2 separate regions of the Homo sapiens genome follow, and region 1 is linked to region 2. Evidence: fine-mapped expression QTL. Tissue or cell type: lung. Region 2 holds a variant in brackets; the other region holds the start of a gene. All regions are shown on one strand. Distances are between the middles of the regions.

Evidence for each region. PIP is the estimated chance that this variant, and not a neighbour inherited with it, causes the effect. A credible set is the group of variants that fine-mapping cannot tell apart.
Region 1: it holds the start of FGF14, and the variant in region 2 is the best candidate, but not a certain one, in a credible set for the expression of FGF14 in lung (TOPMed, PIP 0.53).

Annotation. Positions count from the first base shown.
Region 1 is chr13:101,912,236-101,922,575 of GRCh38, reverse strand. It overlaps FGF14 (fibroblast growth factor 14), which reads left to right and starts at 5,631. Exons shown (of 5, transcript NM_004115.4): 1 at 5,631-6,123. The coding sequence starts at 5,931. RefSeq lists an enhancer at 3,799-4,300.
Region 2 is chr13:102,312,333-102,322,672 of GRCh38, reverse strand. The region is part of intron 3 of FGF14-IT1 (FGF14 intronic transcript 1); the gene reads left to right. LOC107984615 (a long non-coding RNA gene) reads right to left here. Exons shown (of 5, transcript XR_007063856.1): 5 at 9,858-9,930. It also overlaps a transcript of FGF14 not described here. Among named protein-coding and RNA genes, the nearest start is that of FGF14-AS1, 50 kb to the left of the region's middle. The variant C/G (reference allele first, on the strand shown) is at 5,005.

The sequences.
Region 1 (10,340 bases), 400 kb after region 2:
TAGATGTAGCAAATTTGAAAAAGGGCATATTGTCAATTTATCAATCAACAATCTGAAAATGAGGAGGCAAGATAGAAAACTGTGTGTGTGTTAGGAAGTGTGGAGAAGTGGTGAATCACAAATACCAGAAGTCCTTTTTGATTCAAATGGAAACAGTCTCACATCCTTCAGTAAGCCCCGAGGGTGTCACTGTTGAAATTCAGAACTCAAACTGTTTGTCATGTTTGGTTGAGCCCAGGACATCAAGCAAAGGCTAAAGTATTTTCGGTGTATCCTATTTATGAAGTTGAGATTGTGTGTAATCCAGATAGAATTTTAGGTGTCTTGGTGCTTAAAGAGATCAAGGATCTCTTTAGGTACCATGGGGTACTTCATCCTTGACAGACTGGATTAAGCAAGATTTTCTGTTCCTCTTATTTGGTATTAACTGTCTATTTGTTCAGATATCCAATGTCTTAATCCTTTCAATACACAAATCTTTATTGAGCACCTACTTGCCTGGCACCATTTTAAACACTGGATATGTGGCAGTAAACAAAGGAGACAAAGTCTGTACCTTTATAGGCTTATATTTTAAACGGGGAAGACAGCCCAAATAAATAAGGAAAGTACATGGAAATTTTAAAAGTTGTACGTGCTATGTAGAACCATAAAGCAGGGTAGCAAGAAGGAAATGTCTGTGTTTATGAGTTGTAATTTTAAATAGATTTATGAGCAAAGATGTGAGGAAAGATTCATAGGAGATGAGAGTCAAATGCAACAGCAAGTATAAAAGTCCTGTCATAGGATCATGCCAGGTGGTTTGATGGACAGCAAGTGGTAAGTGAAGGGAGATGAATAGAGATGATGTCAGAGAACAACTGAAGGCAGAGATGGGGCACAAATCACATGAGCCATGGCAGGCCACTACAGTGAGGACTTTGGTTTTGAAGTATGGGATTTCGTAGTTACTATTGTAGTATAATCACCCAAAAGATGATGGTGGTAGGTAGTAGTGGAGGTGGTGAGAGTGATATCTTGGATATATTTTGCAGATAGACAGAATAGATCTTACACAAATATATACGGGGTATTAGAGAAAGAAATGACATTAATATGATACTAAAGTTTTCAGCCTGAGGAACAAGAATGAAGTTGCCATTTCAGAAGTGGCGAGGATTGGAAGAACAGGTTTAAGAAGGAAGAACAGTAGTTCGTTCATGGCCATTTTAAGCATGAGACACTTACCTATCAGACATCTTTGTAGAAGTTTCAATATAGCTCTCTCTTTATTCAACAATTGCTGGTGTTAGTAGAGGAATGATGAAGTTTTTAGAAGGTGCCCTAGATTCAGTGTTAATTAGGGGTAGGTGGCAAGAAGTTTCCCAGAGAAGATATCTATGCTGAGACCTAAACTATAAGCTCCATCAAGACAGAGCCAAAAAGTCTCTTTATTTTTATTTAAAAATCTGTTGGCAAGCCATGGTGGCTCATGCCTTACTCTTTAGCTGATGATTTTTTTTTTTTAATCATCAAGAGGAGTGTGAGGATAGGGCAATAGAAATTTTCCAGGTAGAGGGAACAACATACTTAAAGTTGGAGGACCAAAAGGATCATAGCATCTTCAGGAGACCATCAAGCACAGTGTACTAATTACCTTCCAAACTGATGCTTGTATAGTATTTTAGTGTTTTTAGAAGTACTTTCTCATAGACCCTCATCATAGTCTCTGAAAGGTAGAGAAATGTTTTTATTATCAATCAGTTGGTGTGAAAGTAGGCTTACGGGACTCAGTTCACAAATGTAGTTAATAATAACTAAGGTTTGAACTTGGGACTTATTTCGTCAAAATTTAAAATAACTTCTTATGTTTCGAATTATCTAAAATCTTGTCATGCATCCACTGTGGGGGGGTGGTGGTGAGGAAATATACATAGGGAATACATATATTTTGATATTGAAAAAACATGGAAACTGCAAAAGAATTTACAAGATAGAAATGAGTAAACTGGAAGATGATGATAATACAGTCATAGCTGTCATTTTCAATTAGGGTGCACCAGATGTGGTACTAGGATCTTTACATTTATTTACTAAATTTAATCTCACAGCAGTTGAAAAGGAGGCTCTGTTTTCACCTCAATTTGAGAGATGAAGAAATTGAGGCTGAGAGAGACTAAAGCAACACCTTGGAGGTCATTATACAGCTAGGAAGTTGCAGAGTCAAGAAATGAACCAAGAACCTCTGAAATGAGAGTTCAGGCTCCCAATAGCTTGGTGAGGAGCTACACCACCTGGGCCGTACTTTATTTTCCTCTTTATAACGTCAAAGGTAAAATTAACAACTCCAAGGAGGTTCTGATGAGTGACAAATTATTTTCTGAACTACAGTAACCTTTACATTTGTGTTCACCGGCCCTGAATTGGTTTTCACCCTAGCTTTGCACATTCTTTTATCACAGCTTAAGACAGCAGATGGCTCTCTTGCGTTTTCTTTCACTTACCTCCATCCGTAAACAACTAAACAGCGTTTTGGGGAGGTAAAATGAAAACGCAGGGATTAACCTAAAAGACCTTGATTATCCCAATGCTGCCCCCCTCTCCAAGATCCCTTAAAATAGGAAGCTACGTTGAAGAGAAATGACCGCTTGAGGCTCCTGAAATTCACAGCCAGAATAGATGCCCGGAGACTCCGGAGTCCGCTGTTCAGGCGCTGCGCCAGGGGTCGGGACGCTCGAGAAAGAAAGAGTATCTCTCGGTTATGGAAAAGCTGAAAGGCTTTGTGTTCCAAGGTGTTATTAACGTCGGTAGAAGCTGTGAAGATCAATTTCCTTCCCATCATGAGGGAAAAAAGTGAGAAACTGCTTTTAGGGGAGGAAAGTGTCAGAGACCCTCACAGCCAGCGCTTTTCTCCATCAGCGAACTTGCTTCTGCTGGGAGAGGTAGGGCTGGGGCGGGATCCCTGTCCGCGGTGCTGAATGTCAGGCTGGTCCGAGGCTGCTGAACAACGAAGGGAGGGCTCTGAGAGGGCCAAAAACTGACCTCCTGACCCCCAAGTCCAAGGATTTGGGGGAAAGACTGCAGCATAAGAAAATGCCTGCAAAAATAGAGGCACGGCTATAAGAACAAGAAGCTTAATGTCACTCTTTTCAAATTAATATTGTTGGCACATACATCAAAAGGCTTAAAGAACCTTTAAAAATAAACTAGGTGTGTTGGGGAAGTCATACTAGATTTAAGAGGTCACTATACTTAACATTTTACTTTTTTGAAACACTCACTGCAAGAAGCCTTTGATAATAAACCTGGATGCTTTAATCTTACAGTCATTTGCAAATTCAAATCTAGAACTTCTGAAATGTACAAATGGCGTTTCTTCAATAATAGAAACCAAGAGTAGTGACTCTTAATGTTCAGTAGGACTCATTTCAGTGAATTAAAACAACAGACACACTCAATAGCCATTTAGTTATTTTCATCTCTCTATAGACATCTTTCCCTTTTTAAGCAGGACTACAGCAACACAACATAAATGCACACTCACAAAAAAATGGAAGAAAAGAGACATATGAAACTGAAAATAGAGAGGGAAAGGCAGAGCAAAATAATTAGCATTCCCCTTTTTCTCACTTTTGCTATTTTATGAGTGACTAGGGATTGCAAGTTTCTAGCAAAACAACTCTAGCATATTCCTTTTAATAATTGTAGAATTTGTAGATGTAACATAGCAAAGTGTAGAAAATAAACTTCCAGAAGTACACTTTGTAATATATGACAAACACCGTCGTAAAGCCAATGATCCCTGCCTTAGATCTAAATCTACACACTCTCATCAGGTTGCATTTCCTTCCCAAAAGGAGACTTGTTGGTAAATGTGGAGTGAAGGTAACAAACAACAGCCCAGCAGTGGCTGCTTCCATGGAGAAGCTGTGGATAAGTTGCTTAGAGCAGAAGGTGCCCAGCCTCCCTGTAATCTGCTGCACTTCCCCCCAGTTGCCTGGTGGCGAGTACTCTACTGCCTATTCCTGAGACAAAGAGAAAGTGTGTTTTGGTTGAGAACTGCTCCCAGGGCTGCCTGCGTAGTGTGCTTGCCCTCTTTCCAGCTCTAAAGCAGTCACTGGAGAAGAAGGTTGTTGCAAGTCTCTTGATTACCAAGTGAGCCATCTCTCCCCCTTGCTTCACACTGAATTTCCAGAAGTCTAGTTCGAGCATTTCTTTCTCTTTAGCTGCCTGAGCTGATAGGCAAAGCAGTGTAAAGGGAAGAGGAGAAAAGTAAGAAGCCCGGAGCCAGAGCTGCACTTGGTTCTGCCACTCTGGTGTATCCTAGAAACCACGGAACTGTGTTCATCCAAGCATGAAGTGTTTCTCTCCCAACCTCCCCCCGGCTTTTTGTTTTTTTCGGGTGCCCTCCACTGCCGCCCTTTCTCTTGGACCTTCACATTTTCAGGTATCCAGGAGGGAACCGCTGTCGGGACACAGACAGAAAATCAAGGGGGAGGAGACGCCGGCTGTTGTATTTGAATTTCAGACACAGTTCAGATGGCTTTGCTCCCTGACAGAGCTTCTTTGCCCAGGGACACCAGAAGATGACAGCTCAAATTGGAGTGTCCTGTCTGGCTGCTTTTCACTGTCCCTGGAATAGTGTGACACCCTCCTCTGCCCCTTATATTTCTGCCCTGACTTCTTCAACATTCTCCTGGGCGTTTATCCTACCCAGCTGCTGTTCTGTAGCAGCTACTGCGGCTGTCATCTCCTCCTCCCAGGGCTGGGGAGCATATTTGGGAGTGGGGTCTTTCTATCTCGCTTAATCACACCTTCTCTCTTTCCATTCCCTCCTTTTTGCTCCGTGTAGCCTTTCAAAATGACAAACCTACCCTTCCTGCAGCAGAAGGGAGGGTCCTGCAAGTTTGGGTGGACTAGGTGAGGAGTGGAGGCTCCTCCCTCCAACCCGGGGTTGGGGGTGGCGACGGGGGGGCGTTGGTGCTGGAGGGATTAGCAGGGAGGGCGGAAACCACCTCGCCCTCCAACCGCTGCTGAGAGTTTCAGTGCACCGGTAACCACGTTAAGACCGAGAAGCCCCAACCAAGCCGCGGAAGGCTCGGGAACCAGCGAGTTGCATCTAAGAAAAAGCGCCCCGATGTTCCTTCAATTCCACCTGCTTTGGCTCGGCCTCTTAGCACCCCATCCCTGCAATCCATCTTAGCTTTCTTTCTTATTATTTTTAAATCATTATTACCTATACGTTTTGTTTCTTTCTGAAGAGGTACATCAGGAGGGGGACCACATAGGTGGAGGGGGTGTAGTGGGGTGGGAACGGAGCGTTTGATTAGAGATCTCAGGGGAGAAGATTGGTCTCTCCAGATGCTGATTTCCAAAGCACTTGACAATCACCGGCAGAAGCCGAGAGCGGGCGGCGCCGGCGGCGGCACCGGCCCGCGGGCAGCTGGAGCCCGGCGCTGAGTCCTGCCCAGCGCGACCCGGACCGACGGACGCGCAGAGACCCTGCCGGGACCCGCCCTCCAGCCGGCGCCCGGGGAGCCGCCGGCCGGCTCTACCTCCCGCCCGGGAGCCGGGCAGGGCGAGAAGGCAGCGCGAGTGGCGGTGGCGACCCCCGCCGGGGTTCCTGCGACGAGCGGTGACCAGCAGCGCCCGCAGCCGCGGTCCCGCTCTCCACTCGGACGTGGCCAAGCGGCGGCGGCCACGACGTCCGGCTTCCCGGGATCGTCCGGCTGCGCCCTGGGCGCATCTGCGCGCCTGGCCCCGCGCCCCGCGGAGAGGGCGATGGGTCCCGGTCAGGACTGAGCCCCCCTTCCCCTCTCCCCAGTCCCGCCTGGCACCCCCTCCTCTGCCCCGAGGGCGAGCCACGGTCTGCGCCGCCGCCTTCCCCTCCGGTGCCCCCGGCTCGCCGTCCTCCCGCGCCCTCCCTCCCCGGACCCGTTCCCGGGGCCACCATGGCCGCGGCCATCGCTAGCGGCTTGATCCGCCAGAAGCGGCAGGCGCGGGAGCAGCACTGGGACCGGCCGTCTGCCAGCAGGAGGCGGAGCAGCCCCAGCAAGAACCGCGGGCTCTGCAACGGCAACCTGGTGGATATCTTCTCCAAAGTGCGCATCTTCGGCCTCAAGAAGCGCAGGTTGCGGCGCCAAGGTCTGTGGGGGTCATGGTCGGGAGATGCGCCCCGGGTCGCCCCCTCCCCGCCTAAACGGAGCTTCTCCAGGCTCCTTCCCTCCCTCGGTTTTCCCGGCCCACCCCGGCCCCGGCCTCCCTTCTGAGCACTCTGGGTGCCGTCGCGGGGACCCTGGAGTCCGCTGTCGGGCAACCTGTAGCCGCCGAGAAGTGCAGCCGCCAGAGATGGCAAGTTGGCTGCTCCTCGCCGGCGGCTCCTGCCCTCCGCGTCCCTGCAGGCTGGGCTCTGGGAAACCTGTTCCCCCTGAGTCTCGGCTTCCCGGGAGGATAGGGACTGGCACTGGCTCTGGAACGCGGGGCACCCCTTCCTGCCACACCCGGGGTCGAGCCACCGCTCGCAGTCTGATCTGAGCTGGTGGGGGTTTCCATGGGGTGGGCCTGGCCTCACTTGGTCTCTGGGGTCTCCTAGAAACCTCCCGGGTTCCCAGACCTTGGACAAATGTGGATATCCTGGCGGTGCCCCCAGCGGGAGCTGCTGTAGAAGGAGTGGAGGGTGTGTGAACTATGGCCCAGTCCGCTGAGGTTCAGCAGAAGGCTGCTTAGCGCGCAGCCCTGGGCTCTGCAGCCCTTCAGTCAAATCCTGGGATGGGGACAGAGGCTCAGGGAGTCTAAAGAAAGAATCCGAATTGCGGGGAGCGGGGGGCAGAAGTAAAAATCCCTAATATGTGTCAGTTTTAATTGAAAAACTGGCGAATTGCCTGAGATACAAGCCGTTACTATATAAAGGTGACTAGAATAGTTACCTTACTACAGGTATTTCTTTGAGAAACTAGTACCTAGGATGACCTTTCACTGCCTTTGAAATGCCAGGGTCTGAGAAGGCATCCTATTCAGGAGCCAGGCGCTTTTGTCTCTCTCTCTGCCTGTCTCTGCATCCAGTTGCTAAGGCTGGTTGTTTTGCGAGCATGTGGTGTGTTCTGTGGGGGAAATGGGCATTGCTGGCTTTTCATAACCAAGTGGGGTTGGTAGGAAACATTGAAGAATCTATTTACGTTAATGGGAGTATATGTTTGCCCAGCACATTACATTGTCGGCTCCCAGCTGTATTTGTTTTAAATGCCCTGTTGTTCCAAAGACGGGGGATAGAAGCATAAGCTATACATGTGTTTCTCAAAGAGTGAGTGCGTGTCCTTACATTTGCAAATTGATGACCAAAAGTTTTGATGCTTTTTTTTTAAAGGCTAATGCTGAATATTTTAAAAGGACAATTTCTTGTTGTCACATTTAAGAAATTGGAGATTACTTGCTCTTACTATCAAGCTTCAAAGGCAAAGATAGGAAGAAAATCAGAGTGGAAGTTCTGTTAGAGAAATAAAATTATATAAGTAAAATAAGAACTTCTTGTTGGAGAATTTGGGATCAATCATATTTTCAGACCAGTGTAGGAGCCATTAAGAAAAAAATGGATTTTAATTTTCCACATTAGCCTAGAGCCTTATTCAGCCCACCTTTGTGTAATGAGACCAACTCGACTGCCTTAATCACCGTTGATAGACGGAGGATCAATCTATTATGACTTAAATTGTGCTTATCCTCTTATGTCATCAAACAGACTATCTTTTAGAATACAGTTTTCACCACATACAGCTCCAAATTGGCTGTCTACATAAAGTAAATTAACATACTATCTACTAAATAAGCTTATTTTAATATAAACAATGATTAAAACTTGTGTGTATTTCTTAAGAATATAGCCAGTAGATTATTTTATAAATATGAACAATAAATGTTTTGTGCCATATTGGGTGGCGAAGGAGGATTTGCTTTACACTTAATGAATTTTAAGTTGGGTGTTTACTTTTTTGTCAGTATAGAAAGCTGTCTGAGTTTTCTAATGGTCCGTTTCTCCATTTTCAACCCTGACTGCTCTGTTGGTATTCCTGATTTTGAAATGATAAGCAATCTTCAATGTTCTGTAAGAAAAATATATTTGAGGTCACTTTTCTACCTTACTTTGGACAGGAAAATAGAAGGGAAGATACGTTATAAGGAAATTGTATGAGAATTTTTTATTCTTCTTATATTTCTTATATAAAAGTATATATATTCTTCAGAGGAGAAAAATACAGATATATCTCTTGAGTATCAGAAAAGGATTAATTTATTAGTATCACTAATTTTAAGCAAAACAAATATTAAGACTTTATGTTATGTAAATTATATATCGACATATAATAGTATGCTTTTATATTATTATATATAACAATATAATTATTCATTTAATTAAGTCTTATTGTCGAACATATTTTCAAGCATATTTACCTTCTTATTACACACTCTTTACATAGGGAATTGCCCTCAGAAAATTTTAAAAAATCATATTTATTAAAGATACAACCTTTAAGTCTGATGGTTTTATATGTCTTTATAGCTGAAAATAATATAACAATTATTGAATCTTTACAATCTGTTAGGCTCTGTAGCAGGTATTATATATACATACAGCAGTGAATAGAAGAGTTGAAGTTCCTGCCATCATGGAGCTCACAAACATGGGGTAGAGAGTCATTGCCTATGGAAAGGAACAAATTAATAAGAAATAATAAAATTCAAAGTCCTATAAAGCATGAAGAGAGCTGGGATAAAGAATTATGGAGGAGAGAGGGGTGGGGAGAGGGATCTAATTAGATAAAGTAGTCAGGGTGGGCAACACTGGGATCCACAGGTTGAGAGATGACAGGTAAGAAGGATGCAGAGATTTTAAGAGCAGGTAGAAAAAGCAATGTGTGTGCAGAGACCTTGAGGTGGAAAAAATATTGTCCCATTGGGAGAAAAAAAAGAGGCATAGAAATTTTAAGCACATTGTCAAGTAGAATATAGTGTGATATGCTTGAAAACAGAATAAAGAATAGCTCCACATTTTGTGTTTTGGGGAAGGGTAATACACATTTTTGAAATGTAGGGTTTTAAAAAATCCTTTATTAAGTAGTAATTTATTTAATGTAAAGATTATTGAGTTGGAGCCCTACACCCACACTCTTTCCTATCTCCATCACCCCTACCCCTATAGAAGAGTGATGTTTATACCAGTTGACTTACTCTTGTGAAGGACAGAAATTTGCAAGATGGCTATTAATGGTGTGGTAGGCAGCATGACTGCAACCCACCTTTCCAGATTCAGCTCCATCTACCCTCCACCGACCTCCACAGATTTCAAACACAATACAATGCCACACACCCCGCAAATTAGTCATATGCTTTCAAATCCTTATCCTTTTGTTTGTGCTTTACTGTGTGTCTAGCATCTTCTCCTCACTTCTACATTCACCTGTTGAAATTATGAAATTATTCTCATTTTGAAAAGCTGAGAGAAAATGCCATCTCCTCTGAGAAGCCTTCATTTATTGGATACAATTAAAAATAATTCTCCTGTGGTATTTCATACGTCACTGTTGTTGTTTATATATACCTGATAATAATTAATTAAGTATACATATTCAGCTGATTGTAGGGAAGAAGCAAAGTCTGTGTTTTCTGCATCTTCATAGGCTCTCAAATCTTGAGAGTGTTTGCCATACACTGGGTTCTCCTCATTGCCCTTGGATTGGAGTGAAATAAGGAAGGTTAATAGGCCCAAGCTAAAAAAGAAAGTATCCTTGAACCAGAGTGATCTAACTAGATAATTTTAGACATAAAAATACTTTTCAAATTTTATACCTTTTTTACTTTCCCTAAATAAATATAATTATATCTTTTTTTAAGAGAATTAGAGGGATTACATATTTGTGGGTTATTTATAAGAATGCAAGAACATAAACAACCTCATTTTAAAGCTTAACTAATATATGAACAAAGATATTTACATATATTGATTTAGCCAAAGAAAGGGGAATTTACAAGGAAATCAACAGTTTGCAAATAGTTTTATTATTTGGAATCTTAACAAAAATGAAAACTAAAGTAGCCACTGACTACAATGGTGTATAATGAACATTGTATCCCCAAAAGTGTTATGTTTTTATTATGAATTTTTCAATCAAACAAGAACCATAATTGTTCACAGGATAATAACCTTTCTAAATCTTTGGCATGGCTGCTAATGCAGTTGTTTCTTGAGATTTACTTTTTTGGGGCTGTGATCATGAGAGCTATGGTATTATGTGCCATGTATGCTTAATCAGCAGGTGCCTGGGCTTCTTACTAACATTTTAACTAAAATAAATTACAGTATGTATAAG
Region 2 (10,340 bases):
TTGCCAAGTCAATGATGATAATTGTACCAAAAGGAAATCATGCAGAAGACAGAGAAAGAGCTATTGAACCACAACTTTATTTATAAGTATGAGAAGACTTCAAATTTAAGACAAAGTTTTGGATAATTTTTTAAGGATTATGTGCATCTTAGGAGTCCAATCAGTAGTCGGTGAAGTGCTCTATCTTCATAAATGCCCATGACTCACCACCAGCCATTAAAATCATGGCAGTTATAGGATCCCCAAAAGCCTCAGGGATAAATTATACATTGGCATTGTGACAGACAGGCCTAATAGGTCTTTCCCACCAGTAATAAATATGTTCCTGCACTCTATGCCAAGGTACATTTTACTGACTTCCTTTGATACCATGGTGAAGCCTCAGTCTTAGTAGTAAAGGATGTTTCCGTTTAAAGATGCTTCACGGCAAGCATTAAGCCACTGAGTTAACTGCTCAAGAAGTTCATGGCAATACCCTGTACATCTTAGCATGACATTTAGAGACAATATGTAGGTGTGTTTAGTAAAGCAATGCTTAAGCTCTTCCTAGAAGGCAAATCTCCAGCCCATTAGTTTTTCATTACAGTGAATGCTGGAAGGAAAAGGGCTTGTCAGCCACCCTCCTTGTGTTCCAGGGTTTGGGTGCCTCTCTCCAATCTCACCCTTCCTAGGCTCAATCTAATCCTGTCTGGGTCAAACCACTCTGGCTTGGATCTGACTTAGGAAATTTGGTCTGCTCCCAGTACAGAGTTGAAAAACATTTAAATGCCACTTTCTACCTTTGGGTTTGAAGACAGTTAAAATGGGACATTGGCAGGGGGTGCTAAATTAATCTGAACCAATTAATCAGGATAAAACATGATTCTTTATTAGTTATGGAATCCAAACTACTGAGAATTGATAGAGTCATCATATACTTAATGCTCCTGATTATGAACTAGATGTGGAATCTAGTTTTGTTGTATTTGGTATGCCCTACCCAAGTTTAGAAAACACATTAAGGCCTAATCAAAATTAGTGAAATGTAAGCAGATTTTGGCAGTAGGTCCCTATTCAGTTACCTTTGCTTGTAATAATCTCACATGCACACAAACGTACTTTAAACAATAGAGTATGGAAAAGCCACTAACAAGAATTTATCAAAAATTTCCAATAATTAGCAATTTAAAATATATGGATAAATGAAAATTTGTGTTTATAATGACCCTGGGAAGCATTATGTTTCAAATTCATTTAAAAATTGTATTCTATATGTTGCATTGTTAAATACTTATTTTTTGCATTATGATTCTTTGAGAATTGCAAATTATATAGTAACTCCATATATGGAGTTACATGGTAATTTCAAGTTAACCAAAATGCCATACCATATTATTTATCGACTACCATGGAAATTAAAACAGTCCATATAACTTGAATTTCCAGCACTGAATTGAAAGCTTTTTAGAGCTATAGCTTTCAATTCAGTCATTTTATTGAGAAAAAATGTGCTCTATTGCAATGAAGGGGTCTGTCCAAGGATATATAGACATTTGGCAGTTAAGGAGACACTGTGGTCTGGCCTCCTGACTTGCAAATTGGTGCCCTTACTTCTACAGAATATCAAGCAGGAATCAGACATTCCAATATTTTTGAATGGCCAAAACTTTTCTACGTATGAACTGTACCAGCTACCCAGGTTATAAATTGAGCCCATATTAGAGAGAGGCTATTTTGAGTATAGCCATACTGGTCCTATTGGGAGTCTATTTTATGTAGAGTTGGCTAAGAATTCAGTGTGAAAGGTGAATGGGAGGGATGAAGGAAATAGGAAATGAGGTATTGCTCCTTAAAGAGTTCACAATGAACATTCACTATCCATTCTCCTATCTCATGTTGCTATTTTTTCAGCTTTTGGCATAACATGCACATCTTTAGCCCCATTCAAGGGAATATGTAGGTGAGTAGATAGATGCTGCTCAGCTATATCTCCATGTGCTTCTAGGGAGGTCCTCCCACATTGGCTTTCAAAGAGCACAAACTCCTAGGGGAGGAGCTACCTTGCCTCCTACCTCTAATTGTGAACCAGCAAACCAGATCCCTTTCCTTTAAGACTGTATGACAAAATAAGTCTCCAAAACAGGAGGAAATGGGAATGAAAAAGAACACTGAAGAGGAAATTGGTTTAGTCACCATTTTCCCTAGGATAACTCCAGTCCCACAGCAGAGACTCAGGATGCAGTCATATGGCAACTCCAGTGCAGCACCAACTGAATGCATGCCAGGGAGGTGCCCAGAAGTGTTTGCAGGGTCAGGAGAGATTAAGCATGTCTCCACCTGGATGAACACAAGGTTGCCTGAAACTTTTGCCATTGATTTTTACCTTTGTTGACTTGTGAAGTCTCATGAGGGTCATTTTTTTTTTTTTTTGGAGTTTTCAAGGTTCTTTCACATAATCTCTTTAATTGCATGCTCATACTTTGGGTGATAGAACTCATTCTTTCCATTTTTGATCAGTGGCAAGACTGGGACTCAAATCTAGGACTCCTGATTATCTCCCGAACGATTATTCTGTGCAGTCCCCTACAACTGCTGCTTTGGGAGCACACACACGCACACAGAGGCACATGCATGCATTTTGAAAATGGAAACTATATAGGTGTGTATCTTTCCACAGGAATACTATGGTAGGTACTCTCAGAAACAACACCAACAATATGCTCTATAAATCTGGAATCTGTAGTTCAGTGGTTATTTGGGGATATCAGCAAAGTGGCTTTCATCAGTATGCATGTGCATATATATGAATATATACATACATACATGTATATATAGCATTTGGCACATCTATGTCTATATCATCTCTATTATATATTTCATCATCCACATATCAGTCACTATCCTTAGCTAGTGCCCAGGTGCTCCAAAAAATGCACAGTGGCTATCAGCATAAGCTGATAGAGTTAATTGTTTTAGAGTTAATAGAAGAACACAAGCAACCGGTCATTTGGCTCAAGAACTGAGAAACTTCTTTACATTCAGACTTTCCTGACACTGCTTACATTTAAGTAGCAATTGTAAGGCATCGCAGCTGGTTCGGCTCCTAGCAGTGACAACAAAGTTGTTATTGTATGCAATTGGTGGCCTTCCTCCCACTGGCCATGCCTCACCATAGCGCAGCCATGCTGTATGGTGTCTGCACTGCTGTGTGCTGGTGGGGGCAAGCCCCAGAGAGGGATGGGGGAAGGCAGGAGGCTTGGCACTTACAGGACTGAATTTCCAGGTTTTCTGGGAAATTTTCAGAGGTTGTTGATGGCGTCTGTATCTAAGCAGAGCAGGGGGTGTGTTCCCCAGTCCAGGTGTGCAGTTGCCAACCTTTGCCAACTATGATTAGACATGGATTCATGCATCTAGATGTAGTCCATCATTTGCATATGTAATTAATTATAATATGGTTAGTTCTTTCTGATCTCCCTTTCCTATAAATTGAATTACTCAGGGACTCTCATATGACACTAAAATCTTTTTAAAAAGTACACATGACATTTTGAAGGATAAGACTAACTGCTATTTATAGCACTCCAACTTCAAATTCAGAGCCTTCTGCTGTGATCAGACAGCAAGGAGTGCCTTCGTCTTTCAGCAAGCAGCCTCAGAAAGCTCGCAGCAACGGCTTCTCTCCTCAATAGTCTTCAATGCTCAATGGTGATCATGAAAATCACGACACCCCAAGTTAAAGACTTCTTCACTGGCACTCAGAAAGGATGATTCACTCATGCATTCGTTTATTTAACTCACATGTGTATTGAGTACCAACCTACTGTGTGCCAAACCCTGTCTCAGATGATCTACAGGTAGCCATCAATGTCATTCCTGGAGTTATGGGTTGAAACGTGCCCCCCTCAAATTTATGTGCTGAAGTCCTAATCCCCAGAACCTCAGAATATGACCTTACTTGGAAATTCTGTTGTTGCAGATGTAATTAGTCATGATAAGGTCATGCTAGAGTAGGGCAGACCCTTCGTTGAATATGACTGTGTCCTTACACAAAGGGGAAATTTATACACAGATAGGGACTCGGAGAATGCCAGTCGAAGAAGAAGACACAGATCAGGGTGATACTTCTACAAGCCAAGGAAAGCTGAAGACAGGCAGAAAAACCACTAGCAGCTTGGAAAAGGCGTGGACCAGAGTCTCCCTCCCAGTTCTCAGAAAGAGTCCACTCTGCCAATACCTTGATCTCAGACTTCCAGCCTCCAGAGCTGTGAGACAATACATGTCTGTTGTTTAGGCCACGCAGCTGATGGTGCCTTGTTACAGCAGCCTAGGACACAAATACATCTGAGTGCCCAGTTTGGGTAGGGTGGGTGCTCTAAGGCTGAGGATACGCAGTTGGGACCCCCTGCTGCCAGCAGCTCCTATGGCACCCAGGGCACTCCCTATGTGAGTAGATTTCAAACTGAATTCTGGCTCCTTCCAGGGGTTTAGATCTTCCCACTGCTTGGCCCTAAATGTCTGCAGGTGTGCTGAGGTGTTGATCCTCTCAGCTTTCAAGATACTTGGGAAAGACCCAGGTGGCTGGGGCCTCCAACTCCCTCCATTTACTGAAAATGCCAGATACCATTATCAGTTTTTTCAGACATGATGGTAACATGATGAATAAACCCTAGTCTAAGCAAACAAAAATTAAAAATCAAGCATGACTGGGGCCGATGTCTATGGTCTTGCAATTGTTGTAGTAGGCCAGATTGTGGAAGGGGAGGATTTATCTGAGCTGGACTCTAAATAGGGCAGCTTACTGAAAGGCTCTGGCAGGAACCAAGCAAAGGTTTCCACATGGTCAAACTGGACTTTTGCAGTCTGGCTGCTGCCCAGTGTGTGGGAGGGGGACAGGAAATCCAGCTCTTAACAGAAGGCCAAGCAGGCAAGTTGTCACATTTGGTAGAAGCCAGAAGGGGTGGGATGTTTCCTCCCCAGTAGTGAAGGGAGGGGCGGGTCCTGTCCAGGACTGAGGGATCTGCTGCT[C/G]TCCTTGGTTCTCAGCTTACTCAAGCCTCTCAAGTATGTTAAAAATTTGGTCCTATATTTTGGAAAGTGTTTAGAAAAAAAACAAAGGTTTAAAAACCAGAATGTCTCAAAGCTATAGAGTAAAAATTCATTCATTTATATTTAAGTGATATAATTTATAACAGAGACAGAAGCAGAAAACCAGGAGAAAGGATGAAACATTCTTAACTCCTTCAATGTGTGTAAATGAGGAAGGAACATATCAGTTGGTTCATAATATCTATATATATATTTAATTCCTCTTGTTTTTGGGGATCTTTTTTTTTCTAATACTTATTACCACTATACAGAATGCAGGTGGGAATAAAGGAATAACGAAAGAATATAAATTACTGAATCGATCTTGCAAATGTTTATGTATGGTTCAAATTATTTACTTCTAGAAAAGGTCTTAAGAATCTTACTCAGAACCTTTATACTCTTATTTTCTCACAAAGCTAGTGACTGTATAGTGTAAATTAATGGCTTCTTGCAGAATAAATGTAGCAAGTAGTTAGTGTAGGAGAAATGCATCTGTGCTAGAGGCAGGCATACTGACATCGGTGCCTGTCTATATCACATGTCTGAGAAGGTACGTGATGGAATGAAATGAATTAATGAATGGAAAATGGCCCAAAAAAAGATGGAAAATGGCCTAAAAAAGCCATACAATCAAAAGAAGTATCATGAGTATCATGAGGTGAATTTACTGCATGTCAGAGCTACTCTTTCCACATCTCAATCATCCTGAAAGATGCCAGCATTTAATATCAGTAATCATGATGATAACCCTGAGAATGGATTACATTATTTTTACTATAATTTCTCAGGTGTTTCAGAGGTTGTATGATTAACCGTGCAAAAAGGAGTTAATATTTTCAAAAATTCTGATTTTTAAAGTGGTCTGTTTCAGGACATCTGAACAAAAAGGTTAAAGCCTACAATAATACCATGGCTGAAAAACTACACGCCAATATTTGTAATATTTTATATGCATATATATATACACACACACATATACAGAGATAGTTCAAGAGAGTGATTCAAGGCAATTTGTAAATGTATTTTGTTTAAGTTGTCCTAAGTGGTTCTCAATGTTTTAACATGTTTAGTTTCATAGTCAACTTGCATGATGTGTGGGATTTCTATGTGCAAGATATCCTCCCTTTTAAAAATTATTCATTTATTTTTAATTGATAATAATTGTATATATGTATGGGGTACAGTGTGATATTTTGGTCTATGTAGAAATATTCAGGCGAGCGAATTAACATATCTGTCACCCCATCAACTTACCACATTTTTGTTGAATGTTCAACCCTTGATGTGCATGTTGAGAGACTATTGTTGGTAACATTGCTTTTGACATGTCCCACAACTGATTGTATGTAACATGATAGTATGCCATGAAAACTTGGTTGAGTACTGTGGCAGAAAGGTCAGGATTTTAGGATTTGAGAAAGTTAAATTTTTCTCCAGTCACAAAGCTTATCCTTCTGTTAATTTCTGTTATTTTGCAGTCTGCTGGGTTTAATATGGGACTCCAAGGGGGCTCCTAGTTTAGACCCTTGCCTCCTGGCAGGACATATTTTCCCCTAATGAGACAGCACTGGCCAAATGCTTTATTCTTCTCTGCACAGTGTAGCTGTGGGATTGCATAGGGCTCATTATGCACCCAAGTAGTCATGTCCTAGTTTCTGCTTTTTTGCAGTGCTGGTATATTCATGAAAGAGTGTAATGTAATATACAACAGGTTTTTTTTAAAATATCTTGGGATATTGTAAAAAGGAGTAATTTGCTAGAAAGGTAAGAAGAGGGAATTAAAGCTTCAATAAATCTGTGTTAGGCTCACTGCCTTGCTGTATTTGAGGTCTTACCTAGTTTATTTCAAGCTTGGGGTTCTCCCTAAGGTACACAGGACCCAAGCTGATATATTTTAGATGCAATAATATTTGGGACAGAAAATTCCAACTCTTGTTTTGTGAAATGCTAGGGGATCCTCAACTATTTCAAGAAGGATTACAAGACAGCTAAAAGGAAAATGATTTTAAAATTAATTTAATAAACTAACCCATGCCATTGAGTTCCCTTTTTGCAGTATTGGGTTATGACCCAAACTGTGCCAAATACAAGGCATTTAAACACAAATGGTTCATAATGCTGGCTCTCAGAGAACTTAGTCAAGTAAAAGAGGCCCGCAAAAAATGCAGTGAAATGTTACAGGCATTGCCTACAGGGGAGGGTTGAGAGAAGTGATAGTTTTTGAACTTGAGGTAGGGCTTCAGGGAACTGCTCTACTGTCCCCTGAAGGGGTGCAGGCTGGGAGGCACTTTGGAAGCAGTATCTTCTGTCTGTGAAAGTGTGACTGACTCTTAGAGCAATATGTGTTTCTTTTCAAAAAGATCCCCTTTACAGAAAGGAGGAATGCCAGATTTTATAATATTTTTTCCTTGCTACTCATTTCTTTGACCGATTTATTAGGGAAGGCATGTGTGTGTGTGTGATATAATATTCACACAATATACATATATATTACCACATTACCACAAACATATATACATGTTTGTACATATATGTTTGTATATCCTATGTATATATGCATATATGTATACATGTTTGTATGTGTGTGTAACATTATGTGAATCTTTTATTATACATTAATATGTTATTTATAATAATGTATATGTTATATAATATATTAATATAATATGTATAATTTTGTACATTTATTATGTATTTTTATATATAAATTTTTAGCCAAAGCTAATAGAAGTGAGATCAATAAAACATTATATTTACTCCCATGTCGAGAAATACCAAACCCTTCTGGCAGGTGTGAGCAAGTACTTGCTTTCAGAGCTTTGCAGGAAATTCCTGAATTAATACACAAGACGACTTTTTTTCCTGATAGCAGAAATTAACTTTCAGAATAAAAACAGTAACTCTTGTTGTAAACAACTTTGAAAGAGTGATTGGCATTTGTTTATTTGCATGTACGTCTACCTGTTTATTCACCAAATATTTTCTGAGTGTTTACTATGAATAATTGTGAGTTTCTGTGATAATAAAACTATACTTTCAGCTCTCTGAGGGCAGGAAAGCTTTTTTATTAATCATTGGATCCTTGTATCTAGTACAGTATCTGGAAAATGCAGACATTCCATATAGTATTAATATGTTCGGTTTGTTGAAGTAACATATACCGTGAAGACACTTGGAATGGTCCCTTCAGTTCAGGAAATATGTATAGCGCGATTGAGGACATATTCAGAAGGAACTAGTAAGTAGTCAATATAGAATGGGTGCTGCTTAATTTGTGCATGTAATATATGTTTGGGGCCATCGGTGGAGAGAGACAGTTCCAGCTGAATAAAACATGATGATACACAAGTGAATACACTTTATTGATGACTTCAATTTGTAAGATGATCAGGTCAGGCAAATTACATTGTTGCTAACTGACTTCAATAAATTTTGACTGTACAAGCAGCAGAAAGAAATTTCTGTCTCTTATATTTCAACTGACCTCTCAGAAAATTAGCCATTTTTTTTCAATACGTAATGCCTCATGAAGATGGCTTGCGTGGCCCCTGAAGTAGTGAGGTGCATTTTCTTAAGTGGACTGAACATCTTGGTCGTCTGTGTGCTGGCTGTGTTCTCCGGCCTCAGCCTGGCAGAGTTGTTTCGTAATGGCTGCATTTTCTGCCTGAGTGATGGAAAACACGTTTGGTAGTTTTAGAGAAAATAATTGGTATTTTAATTTCTCTGTCTTGAACGTCTAGTACTACTTTGTGGAGGAATTTGTGACGTGATGTTGTTGCTTTCCATTTGGACTGTTGAAGAAGTCATGAGGGTTGATGCCTGAATGATTTTCCATAGAAATGAACCTGAACAGTTTTGGTGAAAACCTTCTTTAATGCAAACAAGAATATATTTCTTTTGGGGTTGGGGCTGAAAATAGACATTTTAATTTCATTATGTTATTAGTTTAAAAATCTATTAAAACCAACAATGTGAACTGTTTTGAGCTCTTACCCCCCTCCCCTGCCCAACGCCTTAAAAGGTAAATGGAGTATTTCTGAGAGAATTCCCAAAGAGTATCTTGTTTGGACCACCAACTACAATTTTGACTTTCACTTTCTCACCATTTCCTGTAAAATCGGGACTGTTTCATCAGTGATGATCTGCATTCTTTTATGCCTTTCCCTGAGACGAGAGTGCCCTTCCCTGGCTCCAACAAACAACTCCTGCTTATCTTTCAAGATTGACTTTAAATGTTACCTCGTGAGACTCAGTTTCTGAGTTCTCCACTTCTGTTGTAATTGATGAAGAGACTAGGCACATAATTGTAATTGAGCTATTTCCACGGCTGCTTTCCCTGTGTGTGAGTGCTTCCAGGCTCAGGATTGGGTTTGACATTGCCTGGTGCCTTCCAGGAGCAGTGCCCTGCCCACAGTGAGGTGGAAGACACTGTTGAATTGATTGTTGGATAGCTGAATGTGAACCTTGCAGAGGGGCCTTGCTTGGCCCTGCCTTTTTCCCTGGAGAACTGTAAGGCTATCAGTGCTTGGAAGGTGCTCTGTTGTCCTTGAACTAAATGTCTGCTCCTATGGCTGTGGCTCAGGAAGGAGTAGGTTGGTCCGCTACAGGAGGAGGAGAACTCACTTGCTTTTGTCAGGGTTGTGTCTCCTCTCTACCCCACTTGACTTTTCACACAGCCCCTGAGTGATGTACCTGCCGAGCTCTGGACTGAAAGGGATATCTGGGGCTGTGGACGGAGTCCAGAAGTAGGGCTTCGATGGAAGAGCTAAATGTTTCTTTATTCTTCATATGTCTCTGAGGATGTTGTTGATAGCAGAAAACAATCAGCAAGAAATTTCTGCTATCAGAAGCTTTCAAATCCATGCCCTGAAAAACAAAACAAAACAAAACAATACACTTCCTTCTCCTATAAGTTCTAATTCTTATATTTTTCCTAGGGCTATCACTGATGTCTCTATCCCTTTAAGCCATCCAGGGGGGTAGTTGGAATTCCTAACAGCACTAGGATTAATAGTGCAGTGGTATAATGCCATTCATAAGTGTTTGTGGGGAATACAATTTCTAGTGGATTTGATTTTTTATAAAACATACAGACATTTTAAACCCTTGGCCCAAGTATCAGTCCTATTTATTCTTTTAATTGGCATTAGTTTGGTGATCTTGGATCTGAATTTCTCCTTGGTAAACAGTAATAAATATTAGCTTCCAAAGTTTGTTGTAAGAATGAAAGACAACGCTGTAAATGAAACCTCCTTGAAAATAGTATTTTTGAAAAT